2 separate regions of the Homo sapiens genome follow, and region 1 is linked to region 2. Evidence: fine-mapped expression QTL. A gene starts in region 2. The other region holds a variant in brackets. All regions are shown on one strand. Distances are from middle to middle.

The links. PIP is the estimated chance that this variant, and not a neighbour inherited with it, causes the effect.
Region 1: its variant is the best candidate, but not a certain one, in a credible set for the expression of DUSP5 in whole blood (INTERVAL, PIP 0.71).

What each region holds. Positions count from the first base shown.
Region 1 is chr10:110,558,714-110,564,087 of GRCh38, reverse strand. No RefSeq gene overlaps it. Among named protein-coding and RNA genes, the nearest start is that of SMC3, 6.3 kb to the left of the region's middle. The variant A/G (reference allele first, on the strand shown) is at 2,106.
Region 2 is chr10:110,494,852-110,500,225 of GRCh38, reverse strand. DUSP5 (dual specificity phosphatase 5) reads right to left here and starts at 2,319. Exons shown (of 4, transcript NM_004419.4): 1 at 1,726-2,319. The coding sequence starts at 2,104. DUSP5-DT (DUSP5 divergent transcript) reads left to right here and starts at 3,744. Exons shown (of 2, transcript NR_187547.1): 1 at 3,744-3,838. RefSeq lists silencers at 1,593-1,862, 1,983-2,042, 2,113-2,252, 2,263-2,792 and an enhancer at 3,274-3,797.

The sequences.
Region 1 (5,374 bases), 64 kb before region 2:
TTTCTCACTGATGCTGTGAGGAGCAAGGGTACTTATTTTGCATTGGGTTGGAAACCCAAGGGTCTTATGCTGACTCCATTTGACAAATTCCATGAGTTGGGACATGTCATTTTACCATGTGACTTTCTGTAGATAAAATGGGAATATTCTCTGCCTTTCCAGGCAGCAAAGATGCAGATAGACATTTGCCCCAACAGTCAGTGGTCAGACTTTGGGAGAGCCGGGTCACATCCTGGCTCTATCACTTGCTGATGTATGACCTGGGGAAGATTAACCTCCTGAAGCCTGTTTCCTCATCTATAAGTAAAGATTTTAATGATATCTATGGAAATTTCCTTGCAGGTAAATTAGGATGATTTATTTAAAATAACTGGCACAAGACATAGTGTTAGCTATTTTTGTTATTAGTTCATAGCCAAACTTGTAGTCAGCAAATCCCTGGGAAAAGACAGCAAAGAGCTAAACTGAAAGATCAAAATGCCAGGAGAAAACTGACCAAACACTCTGGGACCACCTCACCCCCCATTATTCATTCATTCATTGAACAGATATTTACTGATTACCTCTAGCATGAATGTGTCCTAATAGCGTTGAGGAGAAAGAAACTTTTCCTCTGCCCTTTTATGTTTATGGGTGAGGTGTGGAGTGGGGGGAATCCATGAACATAAGAGGACAGGAGCTTAAGGCTTGGCGGCGATCGCCTGTAGTCCCAGCTACTCCGGAGGCTGAGGTGGGAGGACGGCTTGAACCTAGGCGTTCAAGGCTGCAGTGAATCATGACTGTGCCACTGCACTCCAGCCTGGATGACACACTAGCAAAAGAAAAAGCAGATTTTAATCACATACGTACATGTGGGAGTTCACAAAGAAATGTGACTCAAAAGGGCAGTTACAATTTGGGGCTTATATAACCCAAATGGAGTTTGAGACCAGCCTAGCCAACATGGCAAAACCCCATCTCTGCTAAAAATACAAAAATTACCCAGGCATGGTGGCCTGCAACTGTAATCCCAGCTACTAGGGAGACTGAGGCAGGAGAATTGCTTGAATCTAGGAGGCGGAGGTTGCAGTGAGTTAAGATCACACCACTGCACTTCAGCCTGGGTGACAGAGTGAGACTCCATCTCAAAAAAGAGAAAAAAATCCATTTTGACTGTGTGCTCATTGGTCAGGGAAATTGCCGCAGGATGGGTTTATGGACCTAGTGCAACGAATGTGAAACAGACTTGAGCCAGGACTTCATGTATCACCTGGCCTTTGTACACCTCCACTGGATCAGGGGAGCCATAAACATGTTTGAGCTCAGTGTCAGCTCAGATCCTATGTCCAACAGCACTCAAAAGATCTGGGTGTTCCCCTTTTCCTAGGGTTCAGTTACTCTGTTAAGTTTTAGGGTCAGATTGAAAGAAATGATACTGAATATACCCAAGGAGAAAATACACCTTCCTTGGGACTCAGCTTCCCCTTCAGTTGATGGGCTGTGGTGTGAGATCTGCCTCCCGTACATAAACTGGATGAGGGGTTGAGACTTTCCATTGCAGGGACTGACATCAGCTTGTGCTCGCTCAAGCCTAATCTAATTTGGTATGTAAGTGAAGATGTACACACCGTCACTGGCTGCCAACTTATCTTACTCCTAGAACAACATGGTCTATGAACCATAGCCACAAACCCCTATGGGTTATAGACTTAAACACGTCCTAAGACAAAATTATAATGAATTTAGTTTAAAGATCTTAATTGGCTTTACTTGTGATTCTAGAATCAAGCAACACCTCATTCTATGAAAAAGAATGCACATTCTGGTGAGTTGAGCAGAAGATCATGGCTTTCTAGATAGAAAAGGGCTGAGGAAAGCAGACAGAAAACAAAACACAGCTGTTTCAAAGTTGCTCTCCTTGTAAAGGTTAAAGCAGAGGAAGCTTCCTCATCATGCTGGCTAAAACAGGCCTATTTGGGAATTTGGCTATTTTCTCTCTCTCTTGATTTCTTGAAAGTTCAGATAAACAACTTAGTTTTGGCATGGTGTTGTGGAACTTCAATATGAGTAAATCCATTTTGGTTTGGTCTGTTGGGTCTAGTGCAGGAGCTCCATGAAAACCAATG[A/G]CTTTCTATAAATTTTATTTAGCAAACCTAGGAGCTAAAACTACAAGACCCCCAGATGGAAACATAGGAGTAAATCGTTGTGACCTTGTGTTGGCAGTGGTTTCTGTAATGCATTGCCAAAGCAAAGTAACACACACAAAGATTAATTGTACTTCCTCAAAACTGTTGTTCACTAACAGAAGTGAAAAGATATAGACTGGGAGAAAATATTTGCAAATTGTATACCTGACAATTTACGTGTGTGTGTGTGTGTGTGTGTGTGTGTGTGTGTGTGTGTGTATATATATATCCAAAATATATAAAGAACTCTCACAACTCAACAATAAAAGACAAACAACCCACTTTAAAAATGGGCAAAAGATTTGAATACACATTTCTCCAAAGAAGATAAACAAATGGCCAATAAACGTGTGAAAAGATGCTCGACATCATTAGTCATCAGAGGAATGTCAATCAAAACCACAGTCAGATACCACTTCATACCCACTAGGATGGCTAAAATAAAAAGGCAGACAATAACAGGTGTTGGCTGGGATATGGAGAAATTGAAAGCCTCGTATGTTGCTGGTGGGATTGTAAGATGATGCAGCCACTTTGGAAAACATTTAGGCACTTTCCAGAATAGGAAAATCCACAGAGACAGAAAACAGTTCAGTGGCTGCCTGGGGCTGGGGATTGGAAGGGAAGGTTTGAAAATGGAGTACAGGTTTGTTTTTTAGGGGAGGAAAGGGAGTGTTGAAAATATCCTAAAATTATATTGTAATGATGGTTGCATGACTTCTTGAATATAGTGAAAATAACAACTCCATATTTTAAATGGGTAAATTTTATTGTATGTGAAATATATCTTAATAAAGCTGGAAAAACCTAGGAAAATATTTCAACAGTGAATCTTTGAACCATACCGATACTTAGACCATGTACAGATGATAATGTGTAGATTATCTAAGTCATTCTTGAACTATTTCATAAAATATAACAGTGCTGTATATAATTGAAATACATCATAATTTCAAATGTGCTATTGAAATCTCAGGTTTAGATCGTCTTTACACAAAGCTTCAGCTATTTAGATTAATGCAGAAATCCAAATTCTGGCATAGATTCAAATATGCCAGGTTCCAGATTCCCAATTTTTCACTCAGTAGTAACTGTATCACTAGAAAGTTAAACACAAAACTACATTATTTAACAGTAACGTAAGCTGATACATTTTCTGGTTTAAATTATCTTTTATAATTTAAAAGATATTTAATACAAAATCCCTAAATCTAGTATAAGTATTTTTGGGAGAAAGCAATGAAATGCAAAAAACAAGTTACTAGGAAAAGGGAGGTTTGGCCAGGCATAGTGGCTCATGCCTGTAATCCCAGCACTTTGGGAGGCCAAGGTGGGTGGATCACGAGGTCAAGAGATCGAGACCATCCTGGCCAACATGGTGAATACCCATCTCTACTAAAAATATAAAAATTAGCTGGGCATGCTGGTGCACACCTGTAGTCCCAGCTACTCAGGAGGCTGAGGCAGGAGAATCGCTTGAGCCCGGGAGGCAGAGGTTGCAGTGAGCCGAGATCGTGCCACTGCACTCCAGCCTAGGCAACAAGAGCAAGACTCCATCTCAAAAAAGAAAAAAAAAAAAAAAAAGAGACGTGAACTACAGACACATGCCGTGACGTGGCTGAATCTCCAAAATATTATATTGAGTGTGGCCGGGGGCGGTAACTCATGCCTGTAATCCGAACACTTAGGGATGGAGAGGTGTAAGGAACGCTTGAGCCCAGAAGTTTGACACCAGCCTGGGCAACATTGCAAGACCCCATTCTCCACAAAAAGGAAAAAATATATGTATTCTACTGAGTGAAAACAGCTTTCCCCTGATGAATACACACTGTGTAATTCTATGTATATGAAGTTCTTGAACAGGTGAAAAGCATCTATGGTGGAAAAAAATCAACTCTGTCTGACAATGAGGGCATATAGGTTAAAAAAAATCAGAAAAGTGATAGCTTCAGGGAGAGTTGGAGAGAACCAGGAAGGAACATAGGGAATTTTCTGAGAGCTGATGATAATGTTCTGTATCTTTATAGAGATTTGGATTCCACGATTTATGCATTTCTCAAAACTCAGTTAAGAATTTTGGAGGAGCTTCTGAAACCTTTTAGGGGATGGGCAGTTACTCTGTGATTCTCCCTGAGCATGTGCATGTTAAATGAATTTGTATGCCTTTTCTCTTATTAATCTGCCTCGTGTCAGTGATTTTCCAACCTCCAGGGGGGCCAGAGCCTTGGCCCCTATACCTCTCATTTCTGGACATCCAGTAACTTGGATGCTTGCAATGAAATATGTTTTTGGCAACCTTTATTTTAATATCCAGCATAACTGAAGTAGAAATTATTCCATTTCCAACCTCCCACAGACTGTTACATGAGACTCACCTAACCCTGGATCTAAAATTCTTGCAGTTCTTCTGAATGGTACACAGAAATACTAGAATGTTTATAAAGGAAAAGACATTGATGAGGGAAAAAACACCTTGAGTTATGGGGAAAAGAAAAGAGCACAAAACCTGGAGAGTCAAGAAGCTGGAGTTCTCAACTTTCCTGAGCCTGGGTTATATCAGCTCTAAAATGGGGGAAAAAAAATCTGCCTCACATGTTTTCTGTGGGTTGAAATGAGATGAGGAAGGTAGAAGACCCTAGAAACAATGACTGGCCCCATCGTAGACTCTTGGTCAGCGTGGTTGAGTCACAGTCCTGGTGGGGTGAAGTGGGGTCAGGTAGGAAAGTGACTTGGAAGGTGTCTGCAGACTGAGGTGGATTTGGGTTCACGAAGAGGAAGGATGAAGGTATTTCAGCAGAGGAGAACCACTCACCTGAAGGCACTGAAGTGAGTAGGAGCCGGTGGTGTGTGTTAAAAATCCTATCTAAGGCCAGGTGCTGTGGCTCATGCCTGTAATCCCAGCACTTTGGGAGGCCGAGGCAGGCGGATCAGGAGGTCAGGAGTTCAAGTAGAAACCCTGTCTCTACTAAAAATACAAAAATTAGGCAGGCGTGGTGGTGTGCACCTGTAATCCCAGCTACTCAGGAGGCTGAATCAGGAAAATCACTTGAACCAGGGAGGCAGATGTTGCAGTGAGCTAAGATCACATCGCTGCACTCCAGCCTCAGCGACAGACACTCCATCTACAAAAAAAAAAAAAAAAAAAATCCTATCTAACGAAATCTGTGACAGCTAATTCAGGGGAATTGCTGGTGGAAACAAGAGTGCAG
Region 2 (5,374 bases):
GGACAAGTCTCCAAGATCTAGATAGATACAAGAGGCAGGACAGGGACTATACAAAATCAATCTATTTCTAAGATACTTATGAAAAACTATCTAAAGGTAAACAAAAAATAGTTGACGACTGTCTCTGGGGAGTGGAACTGGGTTCTAAGATATGCAGAAGACCCGCTTCTCATCACAGGGCCTTCATGCTGTTCAAATTTTTACCTGTGTATATGTTACCTTCTTTTAAAAAACATTTTAACCCAGTTTTCCTGAGATGTGAGTCTATAGAGCTGCCTACTTTGTGGCGACAACTTCTAAACTGTCAGCAGGGCCAGCTTAGAGAAGCATGGGGAGGAGAGGTGGGACCAGGGAGGGTCTCCTGGAACCTCTTTCATACTACTGAGGCAGAAACTTCTCCAAACCACAGGAGATAAAAACCATATTAGGAAGAGAAAGAAATCAGGAGGCACGCTGAAACCTCTGCAGAGCCAGAGGGCCAACCCTCTATCCCCTGGGGGATAGGCTGTTAGAAGAAGGACGATTACCATCTACCTCTGTTAACTCTCCAACAGGAAATCAACAGGGGACCAGTCAGCAGGAGGTGCTAGCAGAGAGGGGAACTGTCTCCAGAATCTTCCTGGCCCGGACTGTGTGAAACTCAAGTTGCATGGCTTTAAAACAGGCTCCTAACTCGGCGCCGGCTCTCTGCACCGAGCTCTGATCCCCAACACTGTTACATCCCAAGGTGTCCGCGCCAGGGCTGGCACGGCCTTGGGGCCCTGCTGGGGCTAAACCCTCATCTCTACATGTGGGTCAGGTCTCCCCGGGTGTCATTTGAGGTTACAAAGGACTCAAACACAAAGCAGGAGCAGTCATAGGAAGTAACCCAGAAAAAACCAATGCTTTGGATTTTGAGAGTCAATCACCCACCCACCACCAGAAGCCAAAGTTATCTTCCCGGCAGGTGAAATGGGCAGGCCTGTGGCGGTAGCTCCGGGAGGTGTCAAATCAAAGGCCGCAGAATCTCCATACCACCCTGCCCCCGCGCACCTCTATTTCGTGGCTGGCTGGCTGTAGGCTCAGCTCAGGATGGGTCCCAGGGATAATCCTGGGGCGGAGGAAGGAGGAGGTGAAAAGGGTGGAAAGGATGTGAGCTCCAAACTGAGCTAGAGAAAAGACCTAGGAGGGGAGAAGAGGCCGGAGGGAAACAATAAAAAGCAATAAAATGAAATGGAAAGGGAAGGGACTCGCCAGGTCAAAAAGGCAAGGGGGTCGGTGAAGACCACAGCTGGCTAGGCGGGAGGAAGGGGGGCACCACGGCGCCACACCAAGGGAGAGTGGATCGCGACCTGCTGATCCCGCCAGATCAGTCTATCAGGAAGGCCCCGAGCCCTGACCCCAGCGACAGCGGCGAAGCTCGCGTCTGGAAAGGGGGCTCGTGCCCGGCACGAGCCGACGGCCCCCAAACTGCTAAACAGCAGCAGCCCCCGCAGCATAACCAACTCCACCCAGACCACCGGGCAGACCCGCTGCCGGGCGCTTTCGAGGAACGCGGGTGGGGAAGAGGGGGAGCTCTGAGTGCTGACATTTGCAGTGCCCTCCCAAGCGCACAACAAGCCACAGGGTGCAGACTCCTGCAGGTGGTGACTCTCCCGGTCCCAGGGTGTAGGAGGGCGCCCCGGCGCAGGGAGGGGACCCGGGGGCGCCGGAGGGGCGAGCGTGGCAGGGACCCCGAGCGCTCACCTTTGAGGAAGTAGACCCGCGGGCCGGCGGGTAGGCAAGCGAGTAGCGAGGTGAGGACGACACGCGCGGCGCTCTCCTCTCGCAGCTTCTGCCAGTGGCGGCTGCCCTGGTCCAGCACCACCACGGCCGCGACGCCGCCGCCGCCCTCCTGCAGGAGCCGCGCGCGCGCCGCCTCGTCGGGCAGCACGTAGCGCGCCGACACCGCGCCGCCCCGGGCCCGCCGCAGCACCACCGAGTTGAGGTTGACGTTGAGCGAGCCGCGCACGTTCGAGGCAGCGAAGGCCAGATAGGGCCGGCAGTCGAGCACCACGCAGCGCGCCGCCGCCTCCTTGCGGAGCATCTTGCGCAGCTGGCGCCCGTCGAGCGACGTGACCTTCATGCCGCCGCCGCCGCCGGCCAGCGGCCCCGCGCCGCGCGCCCCGCGGGTGCCCACGGCCAGGGTGTCCACGGCCAGGGTGTCCGCGGGCGAGGCACGGGAGGGCGACCCGCGGGGCTGCGGCCGCGACGGAGCCCGGCGCCCGAGCGGCGGCGCAACTCCGCGTTCCCGCCCCGCTCGCTCGATAGCCAGCCCGGCCGCTCGCCGCCCTAGAAGCCGGGGATTCCGCCGGCCGCGCAGCGTTTTATGTGAATGAGTGCCGTCCGTGACGCGGCTGCCCATATAAGGCCAAATATGGGTGTTTCCCCGCCCCTCGGGCCGTGGCCACGCCCTGCAGGGGGCGGGGCAGCGGGGGCGAGGGACGCGCGGGGCGGGTGCCGGCGTTAGAGCGAGAGGAAGTGGAAGGCGCCTCTTCGTTCTCTCTTCCGCGCTTCGCTGAGGGACTCACTCGCGCATCACCCGCGGCTGCCGGTCGAGTGTCCCAGGCGCTCCGGGGCCGCGGTGACCCTCGCGGTGCGGACCGAGGAGGAAGCGCCGTGGGGGGCGGGGCGGCGCCGCACGATCCGGCCTTCAGCTTCACGGACGTGGGCTGAGAACCCGCCCGCGCCGCGCTGAGCAGGGCCGAGGGAGCCGGCCAGGGCCCCAGAGGAGTCCGGAACGGATTCCCGTCGCTACCGAGGTCTGCGCGTGTAAGGAGAGGACGTCGGAGATTTGCCTCGAGGGGTGGGGTATAGATGACTGGAGAGGTCAGGCGCGGGTTGGTCATCGCTGAGGCTGGGTGATGGGTGGCCGGATTCGTTATACTGTTTTCTCCACTTTTCTGTATGTTTGATATTTTTCATAATAAAGTTTGTAAAAGTAAAAACGGGGGTTGGGGGTCGGCGGTGAGAATAGCCATTTAATCTTCCTAAATGGATTCTGCCCTCAAAGGATTGACGCTCTTTTCTCTGTCACTCTCCAATAATGATTAGAATAATAAGTTGTATTTTGAGGAGCTGTTTTCTGGTCCCGGGGAGACCCTTGGTGAACTCAGCAGTACCATCAGCATGTATCCCACGATGGAGCTCAGTTCAGCCAACTGTTGTCCAGGTGGCTTCTGGATTTGGGGGATTATCTATGGATCAAGTTTAATCTCAGGCTGTCTGCCCCCACCGGTCCCCAGGGGCTTCAGGCCTCCCACCCCTATTCCTGGGGAAGCAGACACAATTCACCCATTCAGCAAGCATTTATTGAGGGTCAGCCGTGTGCCAGGGCTTTGCTAGCTGCGGGGACACATGGATGGAAACAGGTTTCTGCCCCCAAGCTCACTGCCAACCATTTTATTGTTAGCCTGGCTGGGACTGCTTGATGGAAAACAGTCTGCCCGCACTAGACAAGGGCTTGTTGACAACTGACATAAGGGAATGAGGTTTTCAGAAGGAAGCAGAGATCAAATTTTGAAATCAGATGCAATCAAATCAGACACCAGGACAGCCAGCATTGCCTCTGGGTCACAGATGCATCCACCCAAAGGCGCTGTCCTCGCCTTGCCAGTGGGGTCTTGGTGAAGACGTGATGCGGGGGCCTTCTTTCTTTTTGTGGTTATCTGTGCCAGCCTTCCCTGCAGGCTGCTCTTCCTCTAGCACGTTCTGTTTCTGTTACCGGCTCTTTCCACCCCCGGCATCTCCGCCTAGAGCCACACACATACGCGGAGCACCCACGTGGGCCAGGCTTTGTTTTGGGGCTGGCGGCACCAACGTGAGTAAGACTTATACTCAGCCCCAGCTGCCCCCAGCCCAGAGGGAAGGGGAAGGCCTGTAGTCCGTGGGGAAGAGCGCCCAGTAGGGGTGTGGCAGGGTGGGGCGTGGGCTGGAGAAGGCCTCCCGAGGAGAGGAGAGCTGAGGCCAACTCCGAGGAATGAATTGTAAGCCAGGCTGCGAAGCAGGAGGGGAGATTCCAGGCAGAGGAAACTGCTTGGGGTAAAGAAAACAAAAAACGCAACCCCCCCAGCATGGTGCGTACTGGAGGTATGTGGGAGACTAAGGCCCTTCTGGTATTTATTAGCAGATTAAGCAGGGTCAGGCAACAGAGGGCCTTGTGCTGTTTTGAGTCATTTGGGTCTTAGTCTTTGGCCGGGCAGTCCCCAACGAGGGATCTTACTCAGTGACAAGATCCGGATAGCATTTGGGAACATCGCTGAGGCGGCTCTGTGCGGGATCGGTGCTTTATTTGAGAGTGGTGGTGGGGTCCGGAGTCTGGGGGATGGATGGGAGGATTTCATGGGTAATCTAGACATGAGCTGATATGGACTTGCCAGAACTTGGCAGTGACAGCAGCTATGGGGAGGCCATAGGAATGGGAGCACATTGAGGAAGTGAGATGCTGGGAGGGGTGAGATGGGGAGAGAGAACTGGAGAGGGACACCAAAGATTTTTTTGTTTCCGGATTTTTTTTTTTTAGATAGGTTCTCGGGCCGGGCGCGGTGGCTCACGCCTGTAATCCTAGCACTTTGGGAGGCGGAGGCAGGCGGATCACCTGAGGTCGGGAGTTCGAGACCAGCCTGACCAACATGGAGAAACCCCGTCTCTACTAACAATACAAAAAAATTAGCCGAGCATGGTGGCGCATGCCTATAATCTCAGCTACTTGGGAGGCTGAGGCAGGAGAATCGCTTGAACCTGGGAGGCGGAGGTTGCAGTGAGCCGAGATCGCGCCATTGCACTCCAGCCTGGGCAACAAAAGCGAAACTCGGTCTCAAAAAAAAAAAGCTTGTTCTCACTATGTCGGCCAGGGTGGGCTCAAACTCCTGGCCTCAAGTAATCCTCCCACCTCAGCCTCCTAAAGTGCTGGGATTGAGCCACCACACCCGGTTAGCATTTTTCTTTTCTTTTTCTTTTTTTAGGACAGAGTCTCGCTCTGTCGCCCAGGCGGGAGTGCAGTGGCGTGATCTCGGCTCCCAGGTTCAAGCAATTCTTCTGCCTCAACCTCCTGAGTAGCTGGGATTGCAGGCACACACCACTACGCCCAGCTAATTTTTGTATTTTTAGTAGAGACGGGGTTTCACCATGTTGATCAGGCTGGTCTCGAACTCCTGACCTTGTGCTCCGCCCACCTTGGCCTCCCAAAGTGCTGGGATTACAGGTATGACCCATGAGCCACTACCCCTGGCCAACACCATAGTTTTTAACCTTTAGATAGGGACTCTACAGGAGCAGGTCTGGGGTGAGGGTAGCAGGAAAAGGAGGAGTGGGTGAAGTTTATTCATATTAATAAGCTAGAGTTGGTCACACCAAG